Homo sapiens: one gene and its partners. The protein of the gene in region 1 purifies or fractionates together with the protein of each later gene. This does not show direct contact. Each region holds a gene or a part of one and is shown in the gene's direction. Other genes may lie near its edges.

The links.
Region 2: the proteins of SCLT1 (region 1) and WASHC3 purify together in Homo sapiens (affinity purification with mass spectrometry; one large-scale study listed by BioGRID and IntAct). This does not show direct contact.
Region 3: the proteins of SCLT1 (region 1) and LUZP1 purify together in Homo sapiens (affinity purification with mass spectrometry; one large-scale study listed by BioGRID and IntAct). This does not show direct contact.
Region 4: the proteins of SCLT1 (region 1) and TPP2 purify together in Homo sapiens (affinity purification with mass spectrometry; one large-scale study listed by BioGRID and IntAct). This does not show direct contact.

Annotation. Positions count from the first base shown.
Region 1 is NC_000004.12:129,001,401-129,009,789, reverse strand, and holds part of SCLT1 (sodium channel and clathrin linker 1), read left to right. Parts: intron 1-5,913; coding exon 5,914-6,049; intron 6,050-8,389. UniProt on the Homo sapiens protein: Adapter protein that links SCN10A to clathrin. Regulates SCN10A channel activity, possibly by promoting channel internalization.
Region 2 is NC_000012.12:102,009,647-102,016,861, reverse strand, and holds the end of WASHC3 (WASH complex subunit 3), read left to right. Parts: intron 1-3,669; coding exon 3,670-3,754; 3' UTR 3,755-4,022; downstream 4,023-7,215. UniProt on the Homo sapiens protein: Acts as a component of the WASH core complex that functions as a nucleation-promoting factor (NPF) at the surface of endosomes, where it recruits and activates the Arp2/3 complex to induce actin polymerization, playing a key role in the fission of tubules that serve as transport intermediates during endosome sorting.
Region 3 is NC_000001.11:23,090,712-23,099,100, reverse strand, and holds part of LUZP1 (leucine zipper protein 1), read left to right. Parts: intron 1-4,720; 5' UTR 4,721-4,839; coding exon 4,840-7,911; intron 7,912-8,389.
Region 4 is NC_000013.11:102,638,438-102,646,826, forward strand, and holds part of TPP2 (tripeptidyl-peptidase 2), read left to right. Parts: intron 1-1,832; coding exon 1,833-1,939; intron 1,940-4,784; coding exon 4,785-4,939; intron 4,940-6,119; coding exon 6,120-6,236; intron 6,237-6,471; coding exon 6,472-6,572; intron 6,573-7,856; coding exon 7,857-7,953; intron 7,954-8,389. UniProt on the Homo sapiens protein: Cytosolic tripeptidyl-peptidase that releases N-terminal tripeptides from polypeptides and is a component of the proteolytic cascade acting downstream of the 26S proteasome in the ubiquitin-proteasome pathway.

The DNA of each region.
Region 1 (8,389 bases):
AATGGGCAAAGCACTTGAACACCTTTCAAAAGAAGACATACATGTGGCCAATAACCATATGAAAAAAAGCTCAACTTAATTAGAGAAATGCAAATCAAAACCACAATGAGATACCATCTCACGCCAGTCAGAATGGCTGTTAAAACATCAAAAAATAACAGATGCTGTTATGGTTGCAGAGAAAAGGGAATGCTTTTACACTGCTGGTAGAAACAGAAACTAGTTCAGCCACTAGTGGAAAGCAGTTTGGATTCTTTTTTTTTTTTTTTTCTTTTTGAGACAGAGTCTCACTCTGTCGCCCAGGCTGGAGTGCAGTGGCGCGATCTCAGCTCACTGCAAGCTCCGCCTCCTGGGTTCACACCATTCTCCTGCCTCAGCCTCCCAAGTAGCTGGGACTACAGGTGCCCACCACCATGCCTGGCTAATTTTTTTTTATTTATTTAGTAGAGATGGGATTTCACCATGTTAGCCAGGATGGTCTCTATCTGCCTCATGATCTGCCTGCCTTGGCCTCCCAAAGTGCTGGGATTATAGGCGTGAGCCACCGCGCCCGGCTTGGATCTCAAAGAACTCAAAACAGAAGTGCCATTTAACCCAGCAATCCCATCACTGGATATATAACGAAGTAATAGAAATCATTCTACCATAAAGACACATGCACTCACATGTTCATCGGAACAGTTATTCACAATGACAAAGACATAGATCAACCTAGATGCCCATCAACAGTGGACTGGATAAAGAAAATATGGTACATATATACAATGGAATACTATGCATCCATAAAAAAGAACAAGATCACGTCCTTTGCAGGAACATAGATGGAGCTGGAGGTGATTATCCTTAGCAAACTAACAGAGAAACAGAAAAGCAAATACTTCATGTTCTCACTTATAAGTGGGAGCTAAATGATGAGAACACATGGACATGTAGAGAGAAACTACACACACTGGGGCCTATCAATGGGTGGAGGCTGGGAGGAGGGAGAGGATCAGGAAAAAGAATAATGAGTACTAGGCTTAATACTTGGGTTGAAAATAATCTGTACAACAAACCTCAGTGACACAAGCTTACCTATATAACAAACCTGTACATGTACCCCTGAACTTAAAAGTTAAGTAAAAAATAAATTCAAAAAAATTTAAAAAGAAAATATGGAACAAAATGTGGTAGTGAAAAGAACTAAAATTCGTGTAATTTGAATCCCAGAGAGAACAGGAAAGACAGAAATAATATTTGAAGAGACAATAGCTGAAAAATTTCAAAAGTAGCAAAAGATCTGTGGATTAAAGAAACACCATGCATCACAAGCATGATAATGCAAAAACATCTACAAAATCAAAATCAAAGAAAAATTCTCACAACAGAGATTATCCTCAAAGGAATAGCAGTAAGATAACTGACTTTTCAACAGATGTGATAGAAATCGAGAGACATGGAATATCTTCAAAGTGCTGAAAAGAAAAGAAACCAAAACTGTCAACTAAGAATTGTGTGCTCAGCGAAATGTTCTTCAAGAAGGAGGGTTAAATAAGTACATTTTCAGATGAAAACTGAGAAAATTACCGTTGACAGAATTAATCCAAATCCCAAAAAAGAAGGAAAAATCATCCTAGAATAAAGTTTGGAACTATGGAAGGGGTAAATATGGGAGAAAATCTAACGAGTATAAACTTTTAAAAATAATAATAATGGCTTTAAAATGTTTGAGGAGACTTGAAATATGAGCCAGCAATACCGTACATTTAGGAAGAGTGTAAATGGAGTTGAGATAGTCTCAGGTGCTTACATTATCCATTAGAAATAGGATACTAATTTATAGTAGAGGGTGGCAATTCTCAGAGGCATGTTACGATGTCTGGGCTGAGCACTACAGTAAACTAAAAGATTCTATCACTTCCAAGCTCATGGAGCAGGAAAGTGGAATAATAAAATGTAATTAATTCCAGTTAATAAGAAAGAATAGGAACAAAAAGAGAGGTGTTTTGTTTTGTTTTTTTAAAGTCAAGACATATAGGAAATACTAAGGTAGTAGATATAAACCCAGATGCCTTAGTAATTGCATTAAATTTTGCTGTACTACATGCTATAATTTTAAGAGTGATTTACCAGAGATTAACTAAATGAACCCACAATTACATGCTTTTAACCAAGGAGATTCGTAAAATACAAGAGTACAGAATGGGTGAAAATAAAAGGATAGAAAATATGTATACCATGGAAGTGCTAACTGAAAACATGCTGGTAATATCAGACATAGTAGAATTTAATGTGAAACAGATGATTACAGATTAAAAGGCGGTTTCCATAATGATACGAAATTATATTTGCCCAAAAGATATGACAGTTCTGAATGTGTAAGCACTCAATAACAAAGACTCAGAATACAAAAATGTGATAGCACTGAATGGCAGAACAGACAAATGCACCATTATAATAGGAAATATGAGCAGGTTGCTCTCAGTAAATAAAATAGCAACCAGAAAAAAAAACAGTAAGTTAAGATGCAATATTTGAATAATGCAATTAAGAAATCTCTTAAGGGACATATATAGAATACTAATACCGAAGACCTTCAAAATATGCATTCTCTAAGTACACGTGATAGTTTTCTGAAATTGACCAACTCAAAAAAAAAGCAACTCTCAGATTATAAAAGGATTGAAATTATTCAGATTATGTTCTTTGATGACAGTGAAAATTATGCTAGAAATCAATAATAAAAAGGTAACTAGAAAATCCTCAGCTTTTTCTAAGTTAAGCAGTATGCCTCTAAATGTTACTCACAGGTCAAAGAACTCACAATGGAAGTTAGAAAATATTTTCAACTGATTAATAAAGAAAATAACATAACGTCGGCGTTGCCACTAAGGCGATTCTTAGAGGGAAAGCTGTAATCTTAAGAGTATGTATTAGAAAAGAAAGTCTAAAAATAATGATGTCTTAGAATTTGTTGAAGAGGTTAGAAAAAGAACAGCAATCTAAACCCAAAATCATATAACACCTCGGGAACAGAGCACACTCGGTGAGAGACAGCAAGCATTAGAAACGCAAGATTGGACATCTATTCCCCAAGTATGCCAGATACTGAAGCAAACAAAATTAAACTATGTATAGGTAGTCCTTCCTTTGTATGAAGTGTAAGATTAAAAAAATGACCTTGCAAGCTGAAACTGTACAAAATTATCTTAATAATCAATGGGGGACAATTACGATATTTCTGTGACCTTTAAATTTTTTTTTTTTTTTTTTGAGACAGAGTCTTGCTCTGTCGCCCAGGCTGGAGTACAGTGGCTTGATCTTGACTCACTGCAACCTCCGCCTCCTGGGTTCAAGCAATTCTTCTGCCTCAGCCTCCTGAGTAGCTGGGACTACAGGCACACGCCACCATGCCCGGCTAATTTTTGTATTTTTAGTAGAGACGGGGTTTCACCACATTGGCCAGGCTGGTCTCGAACTCCTGACCTCGTGATCCACCCACTTCGGCCTACCAAAATGCTGGGATTACAGGTGTGAGCCACCGAACCTGGCTAAAAATTTTAAGACCCTAAAAACTGTCTTACTGTCAGTTATAATTATACTGCTTGTTATAACTACATTTTTTTATTAAATGAATTTTTTTTATTATACTTTAAGTTTTAGGGTACATGTGCACAATGTGCAGGTTAGTTACATATGTATACCTGTGCCATGCTGGTGTGCTGCACCCATTAACTTGTCATTTAGCATTAGGTATATCTCCTAATGCTATCCCTCCCCCCTCCCCCCACCCCACAACAGTCCCCAGAGTGTGATGTTCCCCTTCCTGTGTCCATGTGTTCTCATTGTTCAGTTCCCATCTGTGAGTGAGAATATGCGGTGTTTGGTTTTTTGTCCTTGCGATAGTTTACTGAGAGTGATGATTTCCAATTTCATCCATGTCCCTACAAAGGACATGAACTCATCATTTTTTATGGCTGCATAGTATTCCATGGTGTATATGTGCCACATTTTCTTAATCCAGTCTATCATTGTTGGACATTTGGGTTGGTTCCAAGTCTTTGCTATTGTGAATAATGCCGCAATAAACATACGTGTGCATGTGTCTTTATAGCAGCATGATTTATAGTCCTTTGGGTATATACCCAGTAATGCAATGGCTGGGTCAAATGGTATTTCTAGTTCTAGATCCCTGAGGAATTGCCACACTGACTTCCACAATAGTTGAACTAGTTTACAGTCCCACCAACAGTGTAAAGGTGTTCCTATTTCTCCACATCCTCTCCAGCACCTGTTGTTTCCTGGCTTTTTAATGATTGCCATTCTAACTGGTGTGAGATGATATCTCATTGTGGTTTTGATTTGCATTTCTCTGATGGCCAGTGATGATGAGCATTTTTTCATGTGTCTTTTGGCTGCGTAACAAAGAAATAAGACACTTTAATTCTCAGTGTTTCTGATATTTTAAAGTACAGTGTACTAAATATTAATTTTACTATTTTTTCATTTCATTTTACAATCAATTTAAAGGATTAGGATAATTGATAAGTTATGATGCAGATAACCATATGATGAAAATGATGGAATATTATGTCATCTTTAAAATATTTGCAGAAAACTTTTTAGAATGTGAGAGAATGCATATGTCTGAATACTACGGTTAAAAAGACAGATTATAGTATTAGCAATACAGTATGTCATTGGTCTATTTTTAATGGAAAGTAAAAATTCTGCTAGAAAATATATTACAGAATTAATAATGGTTTTTTTCATAGGACTTGGGGTATCTTTTCTAAAACTTGTTATATTTCTATACTGATCATTTTCTCTATTAGGTAAACATTTCATATAGGAAAAATAAAAGTTTTTAAAAACACTGTTAGATATTTAAAAATAAAAACTGTCTTAACCAATACTTGTAAGTTTTTTAATTAGAGAATAATTTTCAAGCTCTGTCCTTTCTTCAGAGTAATTAATTTTTTTGTTTCTAAAGTGTTTACCTTCTCAGTTTTATTGTATTTGATGAATTTTGTTTTCAATAAATATGTTTTGACATCAAGATTTAAGTTTTCTTGTTTCAAAGGAGATTTGTAATATTAGTAAATCATTCACCTCTAAATGTTTTAGGTAGATGGATGTAGTTTATTTTGTTATTTTCACTTTGTAATGTATTTACTATAAATATTTTCTGCTTATGATTATATGAAATAAGAGTGTTTTCTGAAAATGTACTTTTTTTCTCTTAAGTATGTATTATTTTAAATTAAAACAATCATTCTTTTAAGTTGTACCTTCCTTGCTTTTTTTTGTAGTTAAGGCATGAAATATCTGTAATTTACCTTAATGTTAAGATTAAAGTCAATTTTAAGCCTTTCAGTATTATTGTTGATCTTATATAAGGATGTGCTGAAAAATAAAGCTTCTGATGTCTTGGTTTTATAGCCAGCGACCATTTTCTTCTCTTTGCTTGTTAACTGGAATTAGTAAGAAGTCCAGTGAGTTTGGTGAAACACGCTGAAGAAAATAGCAAATAATTCTACAGGATTTAATATATAATTTTCATTTAATTGACTAGATATACATAGATATTTTAGAATTTTTCTGAATGGCTTATTTTATCATTTAATAAGAGATAATATCTGAATTTTACTCTTTTGAAAATTTTTGAAAAATTGAAACCTCTCTAGGACAAACTGAATCATGCTTCAGTTAATTGTGATCGATTTAATGCATTGAAATTGTTATATAATCTTTTGATTCTTATAGCACAGTATTTAATGGTAATTAAACACTTCTAATTTTTTATTTGAAGTCTACTTAAAAATGATTTTGTTTAAAGAGTTATTGTTGACCCAAATGTTTAATTGACCTCGAAACAGTAATTACTGTTACGAAAATGACTTGAGGCTATCATGTTAACTATTTGTTTCAAAGGTTGCACAGTGAATTAAAAGATGCTGTTGAAAAAAAATTGGAGGCCTTTCCCCTGGGCACAGAGGTAGGAACTGACATATATGCAGATGATGAAACAGTCAGAAACCTTCAAGAACAATTGCAGCTAGCCAATCAAGTGAGTGACATGTATTTTTAAAAATTATATTCTGAATTAACATACCTTTTTAAAAATTCATGTTAATCATTATTTATGGATAACAAAATAATAAAATTGTAACATTATGATTTTTTACAGTTTATAAGAATCGTTACAGGTAGCAACACTTGTAATAAATACCCTCACTGTTAGAAACGTACTTGCCAAATACCCTCACTGGTTGTTACAAATGTGTTTAATTAAAATCATAAAGATTTTGACGTGAGTTTTTTTCTTATGAGAATATTTTTTCTTTCTTTTTTTTCTTTTTCTTTTTTTTTTTTTTAATTATACTTTAAGTTCTAGGATACATGTGCAGAACGTGCAGGTTTGTTATATAGGTATCACATGCCATGGTGGTTTGCTGCACCCATCAACCCATCATCTATGTTAGGTATTTCTCCTAATGCTATCCCTCCCCTAGCCCTCAACCCCACAACAGGCCCTGGTGTGTGATGTTCCCCTCCCTGTGTCCATGTGTTCTCATTGTTTAACTCCCACTTATGAGTGAGAACATGCAGTGTTTGGTTTTCTGTTCCTGTGTTAGTTTGCTGAGAATGATAGTTTCCAGCTTCATCCATGTCCCTGAAAAGGACATGATCTCATCCTTTTTTATGGCTGCATAGTATTCCATGGTGTATATGTGCCACATTTTCTTTATCCAGTTTATCATTGATGGACATTTGGGTTGGTTCCAAGTCTTTGCTATTGTGAATAGTACTGCAATAAACATACATGTGCATGTGTCTTTATAGGAGAATGATTTATAATCCTTTGGGTATATACCCAGTAATGGGATTGCTGGATCAAATGGTATTTCTAGTTCTAGATCCCTGAAGAATTGCCACTCTGTCTTCCACAATGGTTGAGCTAATTTACACTCCCACCAACAGTGTAAAAGTGTTCCTATTTCTCCACGTCCTCTCCAGCACCTGTTGTTTCCTGACTTTTTAATGATCACCATTCTAACTGGCATGAGATGGTATTCTATTGTCATTTTGATTTGCATTCCTCTAATGACCAGTAATAATGAGCTTTTTTTCATATGTTTGTTGCCTGCATAAATATCTTCTTTTGAGAAGTGTCTGTTCATTTCCTTTGCCCACTTCTTGATGGGTTTGTTTTTTTCTTGTAAATTTGTTTAAGTTCTTTGTAGAGAGAATATTTTAATGTCAATGAAAATTTTTAAAGGAAAAAATCCATTATTTCTCTAAATTTGTATTTTTCAGTGTTCTTTTTTCTGATATTGTTTTCAGAATATTAAGAGTACTATATTTTTCTAACATTATATTTCTTCTAGAATTATACTTTTTCTTTTTCTCTCATAGTAATTAGAATCTTTGAGCAGCTATGTTAAATATATCCTGTTTTTCAACTAATTTTTTGTGAATTTTATTCATAAGGGAATTGTATTTAAATTTACAGTGTTATATCCCAAATGTTTCATATCTTGTATGGGTTTAAATCCCCATTCTTCTACTTTCCAGGTGTGTGATCATAGAAAAAAACTCTTGTGCCTCAGTTTCCTCATTTATAAATGGGGGCTACAAATTCTAAATTACAATTTTGATTTGATAATTATCTGAAAATTCGGTTTTATTTCCTGAAAATTTGGTTTTAAAATTCTATAATTATGAAAGTGATATTTTAGGTAAGTCAGAAAGGCTATATTTAGCTTGATAAGGAACATGTATTTAACACTAATTTTTTTTAATGTATGAATGGAAAGAATTTTTAAATATGATGAAAGAAAGAAATAATGAGGAAAGCATGCTGTTTGTTCTAGACTAGGAAAGATTTATAATTGATTTCATGGGATTAAATAGAAATTAATTTAGGCTTATATGTCTAGCACATATGTACGTTAATAAATTTGCCTATTTATCATTATTATCATTATTGAACAGCAAGACTCACAAATAAGAATTAAAATTATGTACAAAAGGTGCTGTGTAGTGTATATATGTTGCTTTAGGAGCCAATAGCAATAGCACAATGCTAAGTACCTAGCTTAATATTTTCAGTTTAAAATATTTTTTCTGTTACAGTATGATTTGTAGAAATCTTTCTAGAAGTCAGTTTGGAAGAAGAGCCTTAGAAATGTTTGCATTATTTGATCCAGTAATTAGATGATGACACCACATAGATTTTATGAATTTGTTCTAAAGAACTGAATATAAAAATTTTTGAATAAATATATTCATTATAATATTTATCGTAATGAAACATTTGACATAGTTTAAAAATCTTAAATATGGAATCAGTTAAATTGTAGTTTGTCCAAATAGTAAGTTGTACCATTTTTAAAAATTATATAGT
Region 2 (7,215 bases), on another chromosome or scaffold:
AACTATTTTGTAATACTACTTAGCTTAAAAGACAAGTCATAAATTTTACAGCTATACAAAAATATTTTCTTTCTTTATATCTTTATTCTATGAACTTTTTATTTTGACTTCTTAAACTTCTTTGCCAAAAACTAAAACACATACAAGGCCTAGTCATGTCAGGATCATCAATATGACTGTTCTCCATATCCTGTCTGACTAAAAGGTCTTCAGGGGCAATAACAGGCATGAATCTGCTATTTTCTATTGTAACAATGCCTTCTTCTGGAATATCTCCTGAAGGACCTCCCTGAGGCTGTTTAACGTTAACTTTTTTTTCAAAAAGTAAGTAGGAGTACCCTCTAAAATAACAACAGAGGCCAGGCACAGTGGCTTACACCTGTAATCCCAACACTTTAGGAGGCTGAGGCAGGTGCATCACCTGAGGTCAGGAGTTCGAGACCAGCCTGGCCAACATGGAGAAACCCCATCACTACTAAAAATACAAAAATTAGCTGGGCATGGTGGTGCATGCCTGTAATCCCAGCTACTCAGGAGGCTGAGGCAGGAGGATGGCTTGAACCCTGGAGGTAGAGATTGCAGTGAGCCAAGATTGCACCACTGCACCCTAGCCTGGGTGACAGAGCAAGACTCTGTTGAAAAAAATATAAAATAAAATGAAATAACAACAGAGGCTGGACGCTGTGGCTCACGCCTGTAATCCCAGCACTTTGGGAGGCTGAGGCAGATGGATCACTTGAGGTCAGGAGTTCAAGACCAGCCTGGCCAACATGGTGAAACCCGCTCTCTACCAAAAGTAAAAAAATTAGCCAGGGGTGGTGGCGCATGCCTGTAGTCTCAGCTACTCAGGAGACTGAGACAGGAGAATCTCTTGAACCCAGAAGGCAGAGGTTTCAGTGAGCCGAGATCACACTACTACTCTCCAGACTGGGCAACAGAATGAGACTTCTGGTCAAATAAAATAAAATAACAGAAAGTACAGTATAGTAAATACTAGGCGATAGAGGTTTCTCAGCTCCATTATAATCTAATGGGACCACCGTCCTATGCAGTTCATCACTGATTGAAACATCATTATGTGGCACATGGCTGTCTCACATTCTGTAACAATTTGTTTGCATTTCTGTCTCCCTCACAAAAATTTTAGCTGCTTCAGGGAAGGAACTACTTGTTATTCATCTCTGTATCTCCAGTACCTAACACATTTTCTAGCAAATAGTAGATGCATGATGATGAAAATAAATCATCATAATAACAGCAGATAATATTTATCTGATACTATGTGCCAGATATTATCGAACACACTTTACATTTATTAATTAATTTAATCATCACAAAATCCAATCAATCAGTCAGACACAAAGTAGTTAAATAGCTTCCCCAAAGTTGGCCAACAAGTAAGAAACAAGGATGGGATTTTAGCACAGTCTGTACCCAGAGCCTATATTCTTAGTTACTATGTAATATAGCATCACATGTATCAATAAATGGTTACACACATAAATTAATGAATTTTATAGTTTCAGTTTCTTCTGGTCCTAAGCTGCTTTTACCCTTTTCCTTTTTTTTTTGAGACAGGGTTTCACTCTGTTGCCCAGATTGGAGTGCCCAGGCATGGTCACAGCTTACTGCAGCCTCTGCCCCCAGGCTCAAGTGATACACCTCAGCCTCCAAAGTAGCTGGCACAGTAGGCCACTACTGGCTAATTTCTCTATTTTTTTGCAAAGGATGGTGTTTTGCCCTGTTGCCCAGGCTGGTCTTGAACTGCTGGGCTCAAGCAAAACGCCCTCTTCGGCCTCCCAAAGTGCTGGGATTACAGGCATGAATCGACATCCCTGGCCTACCCTTTTCTAAAGTAGCATTTATTTTAGGAAGTTATGTACATTGTTGTATTTGTTTGAGTTGTCATAGGTACTAATACAATTTTGATGTGGTATTAAAATAATTCCCACTGGTAATGTTTTCCTACTTAACAAAGTATAGACAGTAAGAAATCAAATATATAGCAAAGAGAAATTTACTGGGTAAAATGTGCCTAGTATTCATACCCACTAATTCTAGAGTTGTTGCTTCTAATGAAAAGGGAGGAAGATGATGGTCCCATGTTAGTATTTTAGGCAGATGGAGCATCAGTCAAATCCTGGAACTGCTGTACCCAGCTTTAAAGTTTCACTGTATTGACTACATAATGCTTCCTTGTAGATATAATCTAAAATTGTTCAGCAGAGCAAATGGGTTTATATTTGACAACTAGGGAGCAATGCCAGCATTATTTTCTCTTTTGTAGTATGCCAAATATATTTAAAAATATAAGCCATAATTTTAATACCTAAAGTAACTGTTAGACTGTGCATTTTCTTATTTTAGTAATAGTAATTTCTGTTTGTGGTGAATATGAGTTTTATTTTTAAGTGTCCTAAATGTTTAATAAGAGTCAAGCCTGAGGGAGAAATCAGTCTGGTAGTTTGTAATTATTAAGATACAGCAGTTATAGGCCAGGCACGGGCTCGCATCTATAATCCCAGCACTTTGGGAGGCCAGAGCGGGTGGATCACAGGGTCAGGAGATCAAGACCATCCTGGCCAACATGGTGAAATCCCGTCTCTACTGAAAATACAAAAATTAGCTGGGCGTGGTGGCACACACCTCTACTCGGGAGGCTGAGGCAAGAGGATGGCTTGAACCTGGGAGACAGAGGTTGCAGTGAGCCGAGATCACACCATTGCACTTCAGCCTGGTGACAAGAGCGAGACTCCATCTCAAAAAAAAAAAAAAAAAAAAAAAAAGATGTAGCAGTTATATTGTTACTCCTTTTCCTCTTGGTTTCCCCCCCAAAAATACTTTTCTTGCTTAATTTACTTTCTTGGTAAGAGTGAATAGAGGCTAAGTGATAATGCCACTACACTGATTAAATGACTTACTGGCACAAAACTATTGAGGCTTAACTAGTTGACTGTTTTAATAACATCATTAAAATTTCATTTTGGTTTATTAGAGCACATCCATGCAAAGTTGGAATCTAACCATTCTCATGTCTCCTTATAATGCCTAGGGGATCTTTGAAACAGTATTTTTGCCAACTCATACTTTCTATTTTCATTCTGTAAAGATAAAACATGTAAGTGAAAACGTTTAACAAACATTAAGAACCTTCTTCGACCAGGCACTCTCCTTCGCTACAAAATTTCCACATTACCTATTTTTTTATTAGCCATTTTTGAACTCTCTTCCATTTCTAAGTTTCTCCCTGCAGCTTTCCTGAACATGAAGCATTTCCTTTTCTTTTCATTTCTAGCTTTCCTTTCTCTGTACCTCATGTACACTTGGAAGCTTCAGGGACTTAGCACTGGTCATGCCAGCCTCTACAGATCACATCTCTGTCTATAATTGGGTCTCCATGGTAATGAGAAGCAGAAAGTGCTGAAGTAGCGCACTATGTAAGGACTGGCAAGAGAAAATACTGTCGCGGCCTCTACAGGCATAGCATTGAATCCCCATGGTGCCCAAGAAGCCCGAGAGAAGCACGCTGTGGTGTAGAGCAGGAGACTGAGGACACGGACTTGGCAGATTTATTAGCAGCAATATTCTAAGATGAACCAAATTTAAGAGTTTGTAAGTGCTCTTTTCAATTGGAAAAGACCTTTGAAATTTTTTTTTCTTTTCTTTTAGGAGGCCAGATGCTCCAGTGCCTGATGGCGAAAGTGAGAAAACTGTAGAAGAAAGTTCAGATAGCGAATCTTCTTTTAGTGATTAAGCTTAATTTTGATAAGAATTACATATGCATGCATAGGGGTACATTTACATTCTGTAAGAGATTGAGCCTGAACTCTCTTAGTCATAAAAACATCAAATGGCCACATGTCCACTACCAAGCTTCTTCTATGTTAAAAAAATAATAATAAAGCAGTTTTAACCTGCCAGTATGTCTTGTTGCTAAAATAAAGGGCCTCAAAATGAAAAATAGGATAACCTAAATAAAGTACAATTAGTGCTACAAATACTAAGATAGAATATTTTAGAGATGCAATGAGCAATTACAGTCAGGCACGGTGGCTCACGCCTGTAATCCCAGCACTTTGGGAGGCCGAGGCGAGTGGATAACCTGAGGTCAGGAGTTCAAGACCAGCCTGGCCAACATGGTGAAACCTCCATCTCTACTAAAAATACAAAAAGTAGCTGGGCGTGGTGACAAAAATTAGCTGGGCGTAGTGGCAGGTGCCTGTAATCCCAGCTACTCGGGAAGCTGAGGCAGGAGAATCACTTGAACCCAGAAGGTAAAGGTTTCAGTGAGCTGAGATTGCGTCATTGCACTCCAGCCATGGCGACAAGAGTGAAACTCTGTCTTAAAAATAAAAAGAGATGCAATGAGCAATTTTAAATGAAGTCAGTGTGAGTTTAGTGATCAATAGTAGACCCAATGCAAAAAAAAAAAAAAAACAGTGAATTTGGCTAAGTGAATTATTCAATTTTTGTGAATATTTTAGCATGAAAAGTATATGGATTCATATCATGAGTTGTTAAAGACATTTCTGGTAGAAAGTAATACTGGGTTGAAATTTCTTTGACAACTTAAAACTTACATATCACATATGTTATGGGTATGGAACTTTTTGGTAGTATTTTTTAGCATATGCAGCCTTTCACCACTTGGCCATTAGTTCATGTGTTTTTTAAGTCAGATATTCTTATGCAGTCATGCATTGATTAACAACAGGGATATGTTCTGAGAAATGCGTCATTAGGCGGTTTTATTGTACAAACATTGTGGATTTCATAACAAGTGTACTTACACAAACCTATTGCTTCTAGGCTACAAACCTGCACAGCATGTCACTGTACTGAATACTGTAGGCAGTTGTAACACAGTGGTATTTGTGTATCTAAATGTAGAAAAGGTGCAGTCAAATATGGTTTTATAATCTTAGGGGATGTTGACCAAAACATTATGCAGCACTTGACTATATTTATTAGCAGATGGAAATTGAATTGAAGGTCGTTTCAGTGTGGTTCATAATGAGTAACCATCGTTGCCATCAACTCCTGTATTACCTAAACAAAAAAAAATGTGTGCAGGATTAAAATGTTCTCACCTCACCTTGCAAATAAATAATTATTATTCATAGTTATTTACACACAGTCTAGAAAATTCCTAAAGTACTTATGTGAAAAATATATAAATGCATTTAACTAATTGTGCCCATTTTAGTTTAGTTCACCTGCAAGTAGAGCCTGAGAAAAGGACTTGGGTGTATACAGGTCATTCACAAGGTGATCCCAGAAAACAGAAGTAAAAAAACAGGGAGAGGAAAAGGGAGAAAACCACTTAAAAGTTTATTATCGGCCAGGTGAGGTAGCTCATACCTGTAATCCCAGCACTTCGGGATGCTGAGGTAGGTGGATCACTTGAGGTCAGGAGTTTGAGACCAGCCTGGCCAACATGGTGAAACCCTGTGTCTACTAAAAATACAAAATTTAGCCGGGCGTGGTGGCATGCACCTGTACTCCCAGCTACTGGGAGGCTGAGGCAGGAGACTCACTTGAACCCAGGAGGTGGAGATTGCAGTGAGCCCAGATGGAACCACTGCACTCCAGCCTGGGTGATAGAGTGAGACTCTCTCAAAAATAATAAAAAATTTAAGAAGTATGTTATCAAGATTGCCAGTTGGGGTTTGAGTGCTCCAAGACCCTCTGAGAAGCTTTCAGAATGCCTCCCAAAATTTTCCACCTAATAAAACTGGGAACATTAATTAAGCAATTTCCATCCCCCGTTAGTTGAGTTGCCTCCAGGGGCATTAATTATCCCTGCACTTCTGGGCTGTGCTTCTGTGTGGAAAAGCAGCACCCCAGTGTTGAAGAAAGACTTGGAACAGGAAGCAGAAAGATACATGGCTTCGGCTTGCAGTGGGATTTCACAAGCAGAAAGGACAAGTCCAAGCTTACTCACCTAGAACTATCCATGTAGCTGTGACTGATACCGGAAGTGGACGAGGGAATGTGCAAAAGAGATATTTGCTGCAGTCTACCCAAATGCAGTCAATTCAGAACTGATTGAGTCCCATGTTAAGTCTACTTTGTCTTTTGTCTGTGGGATAACACAAGGTGATGGCCAGCCACAGTCTTTCTAAAATCTACACATGAAGATTAGTGAGACAAGCCACAATTACTGTCACTATGACTGAACGCAAGGCCAAAACTGGTACTTATCATCTTCTTCCACCACCCATTTTACATTTCTCCTGCTCTATATCAGAAATTCCGCTGGTCTAGGCTGGTTGTCAAGCATAGTGACCCAGACCTTCATCCTTTAAGTTTTCTAGGGCTTTGATTGCTTTGCCCTGTTTAGGCTATGATTATCACAGTCATCTGTTTGCTGTTTCTTACCAGGCACTGAAGCACCACGACATGCCCCAGTGAACCACCTGCGTTCTAGACACATTCTTCCTGTTTCATTTTGTAATCACAACCCTAGCTCCTCATGTTAACATATTACTTCCTATTTTTGTCCCACAGACATGAGCAGTCCCAAGGGACCGATTGGCAGCAGTAGATTCAGCTTAGTGGAATCCTTACTGTGCTCCCCCATGGAAGTGTGCTAGTTCCTTCCCCCTACCCCATCTGGGAACTGGGACTTCCAGGAAAGTCTGAGGCGGCAGGGATGGGAAGCACAATTACAAAAGAATGTCACTGAGAATGGTGGAGAAGGATCATTCCTATTTCTTTTCTCTTGGTTCCTGGATCTGTGAATCCTGGCAGCTGAGGACATGGCATCATATGCTAGCCATTTTTGTAGTGCTTTTACCACATCCTAGAGATTAGCACTTCAACCTTGCAGAATGTCATCTCTGAGATGGTGACTACAATGAGCCTATAATAGACCATTTCATTGTTCTATTTGATTGATTTCTTCTGGATGATGCTGTATGCGGTAAGACAAGTGGATCCAACAATTCATGCGCCTGTTGTTAGTCATTTACTACAAAATAATCCCAAGATCTGAGGCAGTGTAATGCGAGATACCATGTTGGTAATAGACATCCTGTAGGCTATCAGAGGGTAATGCTGGCAGAGGTGCTGCTGGAAGGAAAGGAAAGCCCCTATTAAGAGTAGTAATTAATTACAATAAGAAAGAATTACTCCTCTTCCAGGGTGGAAGGAATTTAATGCAAATAAATTGCTCCCAAGTGACTGGTTAACCTCTTCAAGGAATAGTACCAA
Region 3 (8,389 bases), on another chromosome or scaffold:
GGTAGGCTGGGGAAAGGAGAAGGGGGACCAAAAGAGGCAAAGATGAGAGGACAGAGAAAGATGTACCCAGAGAAGCAGAGTGATGGACAGGGAGCAGTATTCGGGGTGGGCAGAATCTGAATGGAAGCGGAAGGCTTGGTTTTTTCAACACCTTCAAGCGTTGGTGTTTTTGAGGAGCTGAGCTTGGGCTCCATCTGGTGGTTCTAGGCTTATAGTGCAGCCATTAGAAGAATCAGGCTTGGAGAGAATTGGCATTTGGCGTCTCCTCCAGGCCCAATTTCAGTTGTTTTTCTTTTGCCCTGAGCTTTCTCATAGGATCATTGTTGGAGTCATTTCTTCCCTCTCCAGTGGTGGCTGTTTTTCTCTTATGTCTCAGACTGTTTCTTCACTCTTGTCCTTGATTTTTAAATGTGATCTTATTGGACGACATCACCTAATACTCTATCGTTGCTGCCGTCTGTCGACGCCCTGAGTCACTGCCCCTAACTTCTCAACAACTTCAGATTCTGTCTTAACGTCACTCTTTCCAGCATTATTCCTGTTAATTTATGGCGCTTACATGCTGGTGACCCTTGCAACACCTTTACCTCTCAATTATTTCTCTCTTCTAATGATCTTGTTCTCTACTTCTCCCTACTCCCCCACAGGATTCCTATGATTATACCTTCGTTTTTGACATTATCAATAACTACAGTCCCTCCATGATTTCAATTCCTTGAAGTCCCTCTCTGATTTCTTTCTTCTATATTTCAGGCTTAGTTTCCTCTGGTACCTGGTACCCTTACTCCAACAAGCCTTCAAGTCCCCTTGGGACCTTCACTTCATTAGTTTCTATTATATTTTCACTATTCTTCACCTCCTTCTGTACTGAGTGAATTTAAAGTCCCTCACACACATCCTCTGCTCTCCTGTCCTTCTTTTGCTTTGTTCTGCAGTGCTTCGATCTGGTTCAGTCCAATTCTGGTTTCTCTATTCTTTTGTCTGTTCAGCCAGCTGAACAAGACTGGAGAAAAAGAACTTTGTGGATTGGTTTCACTTTAAATCATTACCAGGAATTTCAAGTGGGCCCTTATACATCTAATATACATCTCATACACATGTCCCAAATGAGACTCCTCATCTTCCTTCTCAGACTGCTCCATCTGCGGTCATCTCCATTTGAATTGATGGTAATGCTGTCCCTCTACAAATTCAGCCCAGCCACCTTAGAGTCTACCTTAATTCCTATCTATCTATCTGTCTATCTGCTTATTTATTTAGAGATAGGGTCTTGCTCTGTCACCCTGGCTGGAGTACAGTGGCACAGTCATAGCTCACTGGAACCTTAAACTCCTGGGCTCAAGCTGTCTTCTTGCCTCAGCCTACCAAGTAGCTGGGACTACAGGTGTATGCCACTGTACCTTCTAATTTTATTTTATTTTACCTTTTTTTATAGAGACGGGATCTTACTGTGTTGTGCCCAGGCTGGTGTTGAACTCCACCTCAGCTTCTCAAAGTGCTGGGATTATAGATATGAGTCATTGCACTCGGCTTCTTAATTCCTTTCTTTGCCTCATGCTTCACATGTAGTCTAAGAGCAGATCTTTTGGTCGTGCCTTCATACGGCCAGAATTCTGACCATTTCTCAACTGTCTTGGTCACGTGCTCTTGGAACGCATGTACTGCCACCATCCTGGTCTAGGCCATAACTATGTTTTGCCTGGATTACTGCAATAGCCTCCTATTTGGTCTTCCTGCTCCCAACCTTATCCCCTGTAGTCCATTCTACTTGCCACCTACTTAAAAGTTTCTGCTGAGAAGTGGTTCAGTTGTTATTATAGATTGTTTTTGTGTTTGGGATGTTTTTGCTTCCTCCAAAATTCGTGTTGAAACGTAACCCCCAGTGCAACAGCATTAAGAGGTAGGACCTTTAAGGAGATAGTATTAGGGATCAGCACCTTTAAAAAAGGGCCTGAGGGAGCAAGTTCAACCCTTTTTGTTCCATTCCTTCTTCCCTGTGAGGAAACAGCATTCTAGGTGTCATCTTGGAAGCAGAGACTGGGCCTTCAGCAGACACTAAACCTGCTGGTGCCTTGATCTTATATTCCCAGGCTCCAGAACTGTGAGGAAATAATTTCTGTTCTTTTTGGAGATGGTGTCTTGCTCTGTCGACCAGGCTGGAGTGCAGTGGCGCGATCTCAGCTCACTGCAGCCTCCGTCCCGTGGGTTCAGGCAATTATCGTGCCCCAGCCTCCCAAGTAGCTGGGATTATAGGTGTGCACCACCACACCTGGCTAATTTTTGTATTTTTAGTAGAGATGGGGTCTCATCATGTTGTTCAGGCTGGTCTTGAACTCCTGACCTCAAGTGATCCTCCTGCCTCAGCCTCCTAAAATGTTGGGATTACAGGCGTGAGCCACCGCACCTGGCCAGTTTCTGTTCTTATAAATTACTACCTCAGGTATTTTATTACAGCAGCACAAATGGACTGAGACAATGGTCTTTTTTTCTTTTTTCTTTTTAAAGATTTTCTGTTTGTGATACATTCTTCCGTATCCTTACGAGGATTTAGGATTCTTCCGATCCTAAATCCTAGGTGCAGATTTAGTTTTCTCCTGTTGGGACATTGCTTCCTGAATGTGAGGTCCATATCTTTAATCAACTCTTGAAAATTCTTACCTGCTAGCTCTTCAAATATTGCCTGTTCCCTATTCTGTATTCTATCCTTTTGGGCTGCCTGTTAAAACTTCCTTGTTTTGGACCTTTTTAATTATTTCCCCATCTGTTAACCTCTCTTTTACCTTTTCCATCTTTTTAACTCTGTGCTGCTCTTTGTAATTACGTATCTCTCTTGACCACTATTAATATCTTCCTTTGCCTCTAATATGCCATTTCTCTTCTCTGTTTCTAGCTGTTGTATTTAGTTAACTTTCAGATCTTCTGATCTTTGTTGATAGCACCTTGTTCCTTTCTCCTGTTTTTTTTTTTTTTCATTCCTTCTTTTATGACTTTAAACATTGGAATGTACTTATTGTATGGTCTCTAGCCAATAATCTTAGTAACTTTGGTTCTTTTTTACTTGACTTGCTCTGCCCAGTCAAGTAAAAGATGGATCTTTATGTGTTTTGTAATTTTTAGTTATAAGCTCAGGTTCAGCTGGACTTTAATCTGTGGGAATCCTGTGTGACCTCTGTAGAGAGTGGCTCCCTCCAGAGTACTTTTGTTTGCTCAGCTAGGTTTCCCAGGGATATTACTAGGCTGATGGCCATTTTATGTTAGTTTCTCAGGACAGATAGGTTCTAGACCACTCAGATGGTATAAATTTGAACTCTGAATTCAAGTGAGAGCAGGTCTAAGATTATAAATTCTCTAGGGATAATCCTCCTTTAACCCCTAATAGAGCCCGGGTCCTCTTATCTCCCTATATCAGGGAGGTGACTTTTTTCACTAGTTATCCTGGAGCTGTAGTTCTTCAATAATCCTTGCTTTAGATTGGGGACTGGAGTCTCATTTTCAACTTACCACCTCTATTGAGCCCAAACTCTTGCCTCTTATACCTGCATGATTGTTAGAACCCAAACTCCTTGGTTCTGGAGATCGGCAAGACCCTAAGAAGGACAGCTCAGTGGTAGTTTAAACTTACTATTATTTTTCATTTAGTTTTCTTTTCCTCTGGTTTTAGCTGGAATGTCACTTACTTTCTATGTGATCAACTATACATTTTAAGTGATTGTTACATTTTATTCAGTATTTTTAGCTGTTTTATAGTATTAGAGGTTTTCCAGGTTATCTGGTTTGCTGTAGTGGTGGAAATGGAAGTCTGTTGTTTGCCTTTTAATTTCGTAGGACTTATTGTTCATGAAAGCTGTTTAAAATACATTTATCAATCCATTCTCCTGTTTTAAAAATGAGAAAATTACATAAAAAAACTAAACCTTCCCCTTTCTCTATTTCCTTGGGGTATTATTATATGTTTGGTATATATCCCCAGTGAAATGGCTTTCAAAGAAACAAACCAGTCTTCATACCAACCTTAACATCTGGGGCATTTCTTTTACAGTGCAAAAGGATATGTTTTGTAGAAGCTGCCTGTTGGCTGGGTCGGGCCAACTCACACCTGAATTCCACTTACAAATATACTTTTGGGAGAAGAGATGTTGAAAATGGGTGTAGAGAGATTGTTTTAGTATATTGTGAAGCTCACCATTTATAGCAAGGCAGAGGGTTAATTTGTATCACTTTTAAGTCACAATAGCTCATAAGAGATAATCTTTAAAAAAAAAAATCTTAGGATTGTTTATTGCTTTGTTACCAAGATCTTCCACATATTATCTCAGAACAACACTGGGGAGAAATACGGTAGACATCATTATGCCCATTTTACCACTAAGTAAAACTGAGACTTAGTTTCCATTGTTAATGACTCTCCTGAGATTATGCAGGTTGCAGATGGTAATGATGTTATTATACCCTGCCATGAAAATTGAGGCTTCTTATATGTCTTTTTGCCATGCTGCCACTGGTGACATTCTTTATTAGGGCGAAATGAGGTATCAACTCAATATCGGCCATAAAGAACCAGTGTTTTCTTGCAGGTTTATTCAAGTCATTCATTCAACAGGTTTGAGCCCCTGCTATGATCCAGGCACCAGGAACAGATAGGAGCACTTTTCTATAACTGGGAGCTAACGTGCAGGTTTTACATTTGCTGACTGACATGCTTTCTACTTTCCTTTTGTAGATTGATGATGGTCTCCAGCTGTCAAAGAAGATTGTGGTTGCCAAGAGAAAGGTAACCATTTCTCATCCCCTTGAGTGGAATTGGATGCCTCTAGGAGCCCACATTGGCTGGCAGTAGACATGGCCGAATTTACAAGCTACAAGGAGACGGCCTCCAGCCGCCACTTGCGGTTTAAGCTACAGAGTCTAAGCCGCCGCCTTGATGAGTTGGAGGAAGCCACAAAAAACCTCCAGAAAGCAGAGGATGAACTCCTGGATCTCCAGGACAAGGTGATTCAGGCAGAAGGTAGCAACTCCAGCATGTTGGCGGAGATTGAAGTGCTGCGCCAGCGGGTGCTGAGAATTGAAGGCAAAGACGAGGAAATTAAGAGAGCAGAGGATCTGTGTCGTCTGATGAAGGAGAAACTTGAAGAGGAAGAAAACCTCACCCGGGAGCTGAAATCTGAGATTGAGCGGCTTCAGAAACGAATGGCTGAATTAGAGAAGCTAGAAGAGGCCTTCAGCAGGAGTAAGAATGACTGTACCCAGCTGTGTCTGAGCCTGAATGAGGAGAGAAATCTGACCAAGAAAATCTCCTCTGAGCTGGAAATGCTCAGAGTCAAAGTGAAAGAACTAGAATCTTCTGAGGACCGCCTGGATAAAACTGAGCAGAGTTTAGCGTCAGAGTTAGAAAAGCTGAAATCATTAACTCTGAGCTTTGTAAGTGAGAGAAAATACTTGAATGAAAAGGAGAAAGAAAATGAGAAATTGATAAAAGAACTCACTCAAAAACTAGAGCAGAACAAAAAAATGAACCGAGATTATACAAGGAATGCTTCTAATCTGGAAAGAAATGACCTACGGATTGAGGATGGCATCTCTTCCACACTGCCGTCCAAAGAATCAAGAAGGAAGGGTGGTCTGGACTACCTAAAGCAGGTAGAGAATGAAACAAGAAACAAATCAGAAAATGAAAAGAACCGCAATCAGGAAGACAACAAAGTCAAAGACCTTAACCAAGAGATTGAGAAACTTAAGACACAAATCAAACACTTTGAATCGTTGGAAGAAGAGCTTAAGAAAATGAAGTCCAAAAATAACGACCTTCAGGATAATTACCTAAGTGAACAAAATAAAAACAAATTATTAGCCAGCCAACTGGAGGAGATAAAGCTACAAATCAAGAAACAGAAAGAGTTAGAAAATGGAGAGGTAGAAGGGGAAGATGCTTTCCTGTCCAGCAAAGGCAGACATGAGAGGACTAAGTTTAGAGGCCACGGAAGTGAAGCTTCTGTGTCCAAGCACACAGCGCGGGAACTGTCTCCTCAGCATAAGCGGGAACGACTCCGGAACAGGGAGTTTGCTCTCAACAATGAAAACTATTCTCTGAGCAACAGGCAGGTTTCTTCTCCCAGTTTCACCAACAGGAGGGCAGCAAAAGCTTCTCACATGGGGGTGAGTACAGACAGTGGGACTCAGGAGACAAAGAAAACTGAAGACCGGTTTGTACCCGGCTCCTCCCAGAGCGAAGGGAAGAAGTCTAGGGAGCAGCCCTCAGTGCTGAGTCGCTACCCCCCGGCTGCTCAGGAGCACAGTAAAGCGTGGAAGGGGACTTCCAAGCCAGGCACCGAGAGCGGACTGAAGGGAAAAGTGGAGAAGACAACACGAACGTTTAGTGACACCACCCATGGATCTGTTCCCAGTGACCCATTGGGTAGAGCTGACAAGGCTTCTGACACCTCCTCTGAGACTGTCTTTGGCAAGAGGGGACACGTGCTTGGCAACGGAAGTCAAGTAACTCAGGCTGCAAACTCTGGCTGTTCTAAGGCCATTGGAGCCCTGGCCTCATCTCGAAGATCCTCCTCAGAAGGGCTCTCTAAAGGCAAAAAGGCTGCCAATGGCCTTGAGGCTGATAACAGTTGCCCGAATTCCAAGGCTCCTGTTCTATCGAAGTATCCTTATAGCTGTAGAAGCCAAGAGAACATCCTTCAGGGATTTTCAACCTCACATAAAGAAGGGGTTAATCAACCTGCAGCAGTTGTGATGGAAGACAGCAGTCCGCATGAAGCCTTGAGGTGTCGAGTCATCAAATCCAGTGGCAGAGAGAAGCCAGACTCAGATGATGACTTGGACATAGCATCTCTTGTTACTGCCAAGTTGGTAAATACAACCATCACTCCAGAGCCAGAGCCCAAACCACAGCCTAACTCTAGAGAAAAGGCTAAAACCCGAGGGGCACCTAGAACCTCCCTATTTGAGAATGATAAAGATGCTGGAATGGAGAATGAATCTGTGAAATCTGTCAGAGCCTCCACCAATACCATGGAGCTCCCAGATACCAATGGTGCTGGGGTAAAAAGCCAAAGGCCCTTTAGCCCCAGAGAGGCGTTGCGGTCTAGAGCCATCATCAAACCTGTTATTGTTGATAAGGATGTGAAAAAAATCATGGGAGGATCTGGAACAGAGACTACGTTGGAGAAACAGAAACCCGTCTCCAAACCAGGGCCAAACAAAGTGACAAGTAGCATTACTATATATCCATCTGACAGCAGCAGCCCCAGAGCTGCTCCGGGTGAGGCCCTGAGGGAGAGGCACACATCCACTAGCAATATCCAGGTGGGGCTGGCAGAGCTCACATCAGTTAGCAACCATGTCAGCTCCCCTTTTGAGCTCTCCATTCACAAACATGACATCACCCTGCAGCTTGCAGAAGCGGAGAGAATGGCAGATGGGCCCCTGAAGGACAGGCCAGAAACAGTGGTCTCTCGGAGCAGCATTATAATCAAGCCATCGGATCCTGTGGAGAGGAATAGCCATGCACCTCCAGCGGAGACAATCAGGTGGAAAAGCCATAGTGCCCCTTCAGAAGTGGGCTTCTCAGATGCCAGACATGTTACTGTGCGGAATGCCTGGAAGAGTAGGCGAGACTTGAAATCTTTAGAAGACCCCCCAACTCGAATAGGTAAAAACGTGGAATCTACCAATAGCAATGCCTACACCCAGAGGTCTTCCACAGACTTCTCAGAACTCGAACAGCCCAGGTCCTGCCTTTTTGAGCAGGGCACTCGAAGGGTAGGACCAAGTTCAGGGGATGCCCCTGAGCCCTCCTCCAGAAGGACCCAAAGTAGCCTCACTGTGTCAGAGGTGCTTACCCGTCGGAATCGGGTAGGAGACACCATCACTGTCGCAGCCTGGAACCACTCAGCAAGCATGGTGAGTTCCAGCCTCTCTCCCCTCTCTCTTTTCTCCCTCCCTTTTCCTTCTTTGCCTTTTCCTTTTTCCCCTCTGCTCTGGCCTGTGTGACCCAGGATCTTGAGAACTGAGTAGAACTGGGTTCCTTAGAGAACTGTTGAAAAATCAGGGGGGTTTGACCTTTCTCCTAAAGAAGGTTTTTGGCAGCATCACTTTCCAAAATCCCTTTTCCAATTTGTTGTCTTCATTTTGCTCTCGTATATGAAGGTGACATAAAAAGGAAATCTGTCTTCTCTTCCCTTGGTTTGCCAGAGCAGCTAAAGGAGCTCCCCGTAGGCCCTCAGAACAGCATGAAAAGCACAAGAAGCAGCTGCAGCTGATGGGGAGCTCTGGGCAACAGGAGGAGGCCCGGTGCCCTTTCTGTAGGGCACAGTGAGGGGGAGCCAGGTCAGCAAGTTCTCGGCCGCCTCAGTTAGCAGATCTTCACAGGCTGCTGGCC
Region 4 (8,389 bases), on another chromosome or scaffold:
CTGCTCCCAGCTAGCATTTTTAGGTGTCATGTAGTCAGCCATACTGACTCTTGTGTGCTCTGAGAGTAACTGATGGCACCTGGCATCTGCCCTACCTCTGCATCAAAACTATTTCCACCACAGTCACTCTGAGCTCTGCATTGCCCAGTTCAGAGGATAACTCAGGCTTCGTCTGACCCGATCCCACTGTAGTATTTGACAATATTACTTCACTCCCCTCCATTCCTGCCCTTTTTGTCTCTGTCGTTTTTGGGATTTACTCTCTTCTCTTAATGCTTCCACTTTTCTAGTTATCTACTGTAGAAGCAGAAGTTAAGAAACTCTTAACTTCCCATCTTATTCCTCTGGAACCAAGGAAAAATCAGCAGATTATATTACTTCCTGCTTAAAGTATATCAGTGGCACCTCCAAAGGTCAAGTTCAAGCTCCTTAAAATAGCAAACAATGCTCCCTCACAATTATAGCCCTAGCCAGTGTTTCCTGTCATTCCGTACACCAAATTACACATTTTGGCCAACTCACTGATTTTGGCACTTGAGGATTCTCAGGATTTGTGCATGTGCACAGCTGATAACTTGGTTTCAATTTCCTGTCTCTTCAGTTAATGACCAGGTGCATTCCTGGTCATCCCTGGGTGAAGGGAGTCCCTTCTTTCTGCTTCGTGGCACATTTTACGTGCCCCTGGACAGACTTTAGCCAATATATTGTAATTTTTTATTTAACTTACACTCTTTCACTGTGAGCCCACCGAAGGCACAGAGACTACTGTTATACAGGATGTATAAAATAAATTATCTAGTGGATGAAGGTGAGATTGGGATTGTGAGAGTACTGGAAACCAAGTGGAAATTCTAAACTAACAGTTCTGTTACTCTGGTAAATATTAAGTATGCAATAGATCTCAGCCCATGAGAAACACAGGATGAAATTGAGGAGAATAAATTTAAAAAGTGGTATACATGTGGAAAAATTGTGCAACAGTTAAATTCTCAGCCGTATATTCCCTCGAAGTCCAGTAGTAATTTAGACCAGGTAATGTGTAAGACCTTCAGGAGTCAGCTGCCACGCCATCTCCTTCAGGAAGCTTCCCAGGCTCCGTAACTCTTCTTGTCTATCTGGAGCATCTTATGTTAAATGTCTCTGATGATGATTCTCTCCATGCTAGATTGTCTAGGTTAAAGAATCATATTTTCTTCTTTGTTACGTTTCTAGCTCCTAATAACAGGGCCTCATGTAGTAGGCACTCATTTAACCGTTTGTCCTACTGACAAGAATTTGTCTCTAGCATAAAATTTGTTTCCGTGGTGGGTAGTTATGCATTTGAACTTTATTTCATTGATTTCTTACAAAAGTGCTTTGAAAGTAGTTTGCCTTTCTTTACTGTTTTACATCATGGGAGTGTTTTGAAGCTACAGGAGGAGCTTAATTTAACACAAGTCTCATAGCTATAATACCAGTGACATAAAACTTTATCATTGATTTTAATATCTAGGACTCACTGTAGTTTGGAATCTGGTAATTGGAAAATTCTGTGAATGTTGTAGAATGCCTTTAACAAAAAAGAGAATGCTTTTTTAATAGTGTGTGTGAATGTATCTTACAAATCATAAAATAGGCAAAAAGTAGAATCATCTATACTCTGCTATTCAGAGGTTATCTCTGCTAACCTACTGCAAAAATTGAACAATATCGTACCTACTGTTTTGTAACCAGCTTCTAAGTCCCTGTGTTTATTTCCAATGAATTGTTATTTTGCGTTTATCCAATGAAATCTAGAGTATCTGTGGTCTTATAATAAATATATACATTTAATTACTTTTATTAATTTTCAGAGTAAATGAATCATCACATTATGATCTAGCCTTTACAGATGTACACTTTAAACCTGGTCAAATTCGAAGGCATTTTATTGAGGTTCCTGAGGGTGCAACATGGGCTGGTAGGTAAAATTAAAATCTGTGTGACCGCTTATCTCTGTTTACGTTCTAATGACTATAGCTGTATGAGGTTCGTTTATCTGTAGCATGTATTTCCCTGGTACTAATATATGTATTTGGGTACCTTAGACTTTCTGTAAAGTTCAAAACGTTTTTAAGATCTAGTACAATTTTGCATTGGCCCATACAGGAAATTAAGCCATCTTAAGATGTTTTTAATATTTAAGGTTTGAGCTTAGTTTAGAATAATGCCTTACCTGGTAATAATTTTTTTTTTTTTTTTTTTTTTTTTTTTGAGACAGAGTCTCACTCTGTCGCCAGGCTGGAGTGCAGTGGCATGATCTCGGCTCACTGCAACCTCCACCTCCCCAGTTCAAACGATTCTCCTTCCTCAGCCTCCCGAGTAGCTTGGACTAGCAGGCGTGTGCTACCACGCCAGGCTATTTTTTGTATTTTTAGTAGACACGAGGTTTCACCATGTTGGCTAGGATGGTCTCGATCTCTTGACCTCGTGATACACTCGCCTCGTCCTCCCAAAGTGCTGGGATTACAGGCATGAGCAACTGTGCCCGGCCTAATTTTTAAAATACTACAAATCAGTTTAAACAATGCAGCTGTTGCTTAAACCTCAAACTGTTAAACTCTCAGAATTTTAGAAATAGAGCTTTAATCTTTGAAGCTCTGTTTATAGAAGATTTTCACTTCAGTGTCTCTGAAATTTTGAGAGTAAATGATTGCCTAACACAAAGCTCTTGAATTAACATGTTATAGTCCTGTGAGAGTGCTCATGTCATTCTTTTTTACAAGAGCTGTGGGTGTACCATATTTTCCTTCACAAGTTGTGTGTCCTAAATTTACAATTTAGCAGTCAGTATAGAAGGGTATGTCAGTTGTCAGAGCTCACTCCCATTGATAGAAGGAAGCAAATACGGGCAGTCAAGAAAGTGTCACCCAATTTAAATTAGTAGCCAGCATTGTTGATACTTCTTGGATTTGGCCCCTCTGCTAAGCACTTTACAGAGATTATCTTGTCTAGTCCCGTCAGAACCCTATAAGGTAGATAGGTGTCATTAGTAAAAATGGCTTGTATTTTACTTAGGAGTGTGTTTTTTGTACTTGTATGAAAGTACAGATATATTTACATCTGAGACTTTATTGAAAATGAAATATTGAAATCACACATGTATGACTTGGTTTGGGAATAACTGGTTGTATTTGGTTCCCCATACCATTTTCTGGTCATCTATCTGTATGCTGTCCATCTGTTTGTCACCTGGTATCACAGGAAATACCAGACTTTTCTTGTTTTTTGTAATTAGGTAAAGGCAAAATAATAGCAAAAGCTGAGAGCTAAAGCAGTGAATTGAACAGCACCCAATATAGCCTGTTAATTTGCACACTGGTTTATAATGGAGCTATTGCAGCAGTGAGAGGCTTCTGAGGATAATCGGGTTGTACTACACTCATTCATTAAGCATATTTTTCTGTACCATCTGTGCCAGGCCCTTTTCAGTGGGCTAAGGTGGTGAGCTACTTAGACAAGGACCCTGCTTCCAGAGGCCTTGAGAGCATCTAGTCCAAGATATTGCAGTTAAGAGAACTGGATTAGAGGGAGGCAGCACAGAGTAGCGGCAAGGCCACGGGCTTTGGAAATTGAGAAGTCTGGGTTTGGATCCACACTCTGCCATACGCTAATGGTTACCTGGGGGCAGGTTTCTAAATTTTCTGGACTTCTGTTTCAACTGTAAATATAGTCGTTAGTCTGTTGTAAGGATTAGGGATTTTATAGTACTTGGTACATAGCTTGTCTTCGTTGGGATTACGCTCACACTTGACAGTACTTCTAGAGGGTGGAGTCAGAGTTGCTGTGTTCAGCATTCCTGGGGTCCCATTCTCATAGGGCCCCTGGGACTTGTAGAGCTCCAGGCTCTGGTAAAATGTGCACTGGTAAATTAAAGAATACAAATCTATGGTTAATTAATACTGAATTGGGTACTTGTTTAGTGATAAATGGCACTGATTTATGATTGGTTTAGGTTGGTATTGAAAATAATTTGTTTTTTTAAATAAAAATTATCAAATGATCTAGAATGCAAGTAGTTAAGAGAATTTAACAGTCTTAGTTTTATTTCAAATAATTAGAAATATTGTCATAACACTAGATTTTGTATTCTTAGCAACTGACTAGGTTCTGAGAGCTCTCTGCACACCTGGTTTTATGAGCCACGGCATTGCGCCTTGCTTCAGTTCCCTTGAATTAGCTTGGGTGTTCTTTAGAAAAGCTGCCAATCTGGCATTGCGGTGATCTTGGCTTACCTCCAGCGCTGGCTCAGAGTAAAGTTAAGCATAAGTAGTCGTGCCAGGCTTTGTAGACGCACACAGTACACAAGTAGACCAAGAAGAGAGATTAGGAAAAGTTATCAATGAGGAATTGAGGCATGATAACAAATAGAGGTTTCCAAAAATATAACCTTCCTTACTTTATCTGGAATTGACTGGTTTTCAGCTAAAACAAGGAGGGATTTTAAAAGGTACCCGATTAATGTAATTGTGTATGCATCTATGGACAGCTTGCTGTTTCCAGGTGTTTGCAGCCTCATGGTGGTGGTTCATTTTAATACCAGTTTCTTTCGTTCCCATAGAAAATCTTCTAGTCTTCTACCTTTATTAATATTTTGTTGATTCTTTGTTTTTATGGAAATATGCAGATTTGAGTGTACATTTTATTTTTGATCCCTATTATGTCCCTACATGGGAATTATCCCTAAGTGGGCATTATTAAAGCCACTTTATGTCAATTTTAGGTCTTATAAGTTTAAAGCTTTGCTTCTTTCTTTCTTATTTTAGAAGTGACAGTGTGTTCGTGTTCTTCTGAGGTGTCAGCAAAGTTTGTTCTACATGCAGTCCAGCTTGTGAAGCAAAGAGCATATCGAAGCCATGAATTCTATAAGTTTTGTTCTCTTCCAGAGAAAGGAACACTGACTGAAGCTTTTCCTGTCCTAGTAAGTTTAATTATAGTTTATAATCCTAACACAATTTATTTGCCTTTTTGGTATGGGCTAAGACTAAGTATTTGCATTTGATTTTATAGTTTGTATTTAGCATGTTGGGATTATATATTTTTTTAATGCCAAAAAAATGAAGTAGAAAAATAGAAAATCTAATCAGGGTACTTGAAATCAAGTTGGAGGTAATTATGGCTGTAATTCTTGAATAGCATAGTCAAAGAAACATACTAGTCTGGTAGATTCTCGTGCCTTGTAGTTAGGACCCTGATTTAGATTATTCTTTGTTGTACTATAGATTAATTTCTTTAAGACCTGTTTGCTTGTCACTTAACTTATTTTACTAATGCTGTGTTGTTAAGCTATGAGGCTAATTTGCATTATAGGAAAACTGCTACTGCTTCATGTCTAAGTTATCTCAGATGATGGCAGACTGCATTCTTATCTGTGGTGTTGGAAATGATGACTAGTCTTTCTTCCATAGAAGGTGAAAGTACTGATGTTCTTCCTTCAATGCGCTCCTTTGTGTTTTCAGTTGGTTCTGGGATTTTCCCAGTATCTCTTGGTTTCTGGTTACTTTCATTTGTGTTCTTCCATGGATCAGTGTTGCTTCATCTTTTTAAACTTTTAAATCACTGATTACTAGAAAACTTACTTTAAAACTCAGTGCTAAGAGCAGGTGTTTTTTTTTCCTTTTCCTTATCTTTATTTTTTAATAGGGAGAAAGATGTAAATGACCATAATGTCATTTTGTTTTGGTTGCCAGGTAGCTGTGAGCCCAAACTCAATTGTGCCTATTGAGTATGCCTTACAAAGTTGAAGTATCTTTATTGTGTCGTTATACTTGATTATTTTTCTTTTGGTCCTAATTTTTTATTTCACTTCGAAATAATAAAATCACATTTGCTTTATTATATGTGCTTTCAGAAGCTGCCTAGGATCTTTTATGACAAGAAGCATAGGGTTATGAGTAAATAACTATGTATATTTAAATACACCATATCTCTGCAAATGATTTGTCTAACTCTTACTTAGCATAGCTGTTAAAATTTTTGAGTTTTCTTGCTACAAACAGGAAAAGTTTGAAAACAGAATTGCTCTGAAACAGCTAGTATTTATATTCTGTAATTTGAGAAAAATAAGAAAAGAGATATATTTTATTTACTTTTATTTGCAGGGTGGAAAAGCAATTGAATTTTGCATTGCTCGTTGGTGGGCAAGTCTCAGTGATGTCAACATTGATTATACCATTTCTTTCCATGGGATAGTGTGTACTGCTCCTCAGTTAAACATTGTAAGTTCCACAACATTTTCATGATTTTTAATGTCAGTTACTTGTGTTACTGGAGAGTAACTTCATTGGTTAGATTTAAACTTTAATGAGGGGAAATTACCTGTGGTTCTGAAGATAGCAGTAGGCTTTGTGTGTGGGTACTTATAAACTTTATATTGGACACATTTATTTTAGGTACAAAATATTGCTTATTTTTAGTAAAGTTTGAGAAAGTAATTTGAGAAATCCTTTGTAGCATGCATCGGAAGGAATCAACCGCTTTGATGTTCAGTCCTCCTTGAAATACGAAGATCTGGCTCCCTGCATAACTTTGAAGAACTGGGTCCAAACACTGCGGTATCATTCAATGTTTTAGGAACTACAGATATTGAATATAGATTGGGGGGATCTCTTACACTCTTAAAAAAGGGCCTTTTTTTTTTTTAATCCACCTGCATGCTAGAGGTGAGAATTTTATCCTTGCCAGCAGATCTCTGCAAGGCAGCCCCAGTATCAGCTTCTAGCTTCACTGTCCCACCTGACCAGCAAAGTCAAGGATGGTGGATAGCCGATCCCAGTCATGACTAGTTAGGATCAGTGGACATTAACCTTTTTATTTCTTGCTGTAAAATAGCAAGTTAACATTCTCTCTGATATTATTTTGTGAATCCTAATGCAGTCATTTTTAGAAACTGCAATACCATTAGAAACTGTTTATTAAATGGTAGAAACTTAAGTACTGTAGCCTGCTGTTTGTGCCTCAGCAGCTCCCCTTACAAAAGCAGGGCACCTTGACCTGTGTTCACATACTCACTGTGTTATAAAGATACCTGGTTTCTTTTGTTTAATCTGACCTTAACTCATCGGCATGAAGCCTAGTCTTAAGTGTATTAAAATAACCAATTAGGGACAATAGTCAGTGACACGGTGATGTCTAAAGATATACTGCTTCCTAGAATTATCAATAAAAATTAAAACATCCAGCTTTTGAAGATATATCCAACTTATATCATCCTGATGTTTTCTTCCTAAATCTAAAAAATTGGAGCTAAATTTAGAGTAGATTATGTTTCACTGACATTTTAAACTATATTTAAAACTTACTCTTCAGTGTCAGTTTTCTCCTTTATAAAATCTGTACATTAGCAACTTCCTTCAGAGGACTACTAAAAATATGAAATAACATTCCCTCGGCCAGGAGGAGGGCTGAGTGTGGCCCCTGCCATCTGGTGAGCAGCAGGGGTCTGGGGAGGTCTGTGCTGCACACAACACAGTACTGTCAACAGTTTGCACAAGGGGTACAAATCAGAACCTGTCTTGCAACACTTTTAGTTGTCACCCTAGTGTTAGGATTTGGTTGTATTGAGAGCTGTTTGTTCACATTTGAAAATGTTTTTGCCATGAAAAGATTGCCTTTGTCATATTTATTGCAAAATCTAAACTGTATGTATTGATATGATTCAATCAAATAATTATGTAAGTTAGTGATTAAAATATTGTAGAGTATACTGAAAAGGATAGCTCTCAGGAAGGTTCATCTGCACTTTTTGCAATATGTTACAGATTTTGTTGCATATGGTTTTATTTGTCTCATTCAATGAACTCTTGAATCAAACCAGTTATGTAGTTTCCTCATTACAGCCCAGTGAGTGCAAAAACAAAACCTTTAGGATCAAGAGATGTTTTGCCAAATAACCGTCAACTTTATGAGATGGTCCTGACATATAACTTTCATCAAGTAAGTGTTTGCCTAGTAAAGTGTACCCTTAGGATGAACTTTTGTGTTTTATTTATGATTCATAGAATCAAAAATGGAAGGACAGTGTATATGGTATATATAAAAAACAGAATCAAGTGATTAACAGTTAATTTGGAATTACTCTTTAGGAAATTATAATTTGTAATTAAATACCATTCAGTTGTAAAGTCACAAAATGTAATTGAGTGGTGACCTAGCCTTAAGCCTTAGTTTATAAAATCACTGATCACTGTCCATTGGTGCCATCTGACCCAGGGGTGATTAGATGGCTCAGAAATACCATCTGCCTTCTGGTGATGGTGCTGGGCCTGATTGCTTTCTGCGAAGAAGGCACTGGAACAGGGAAAGGTCAGAGTAGCTCCCAGGTGGGATGGGTGGCAAAAGTAATGGAGGCCAGTGTAAATGCTGGACCAAA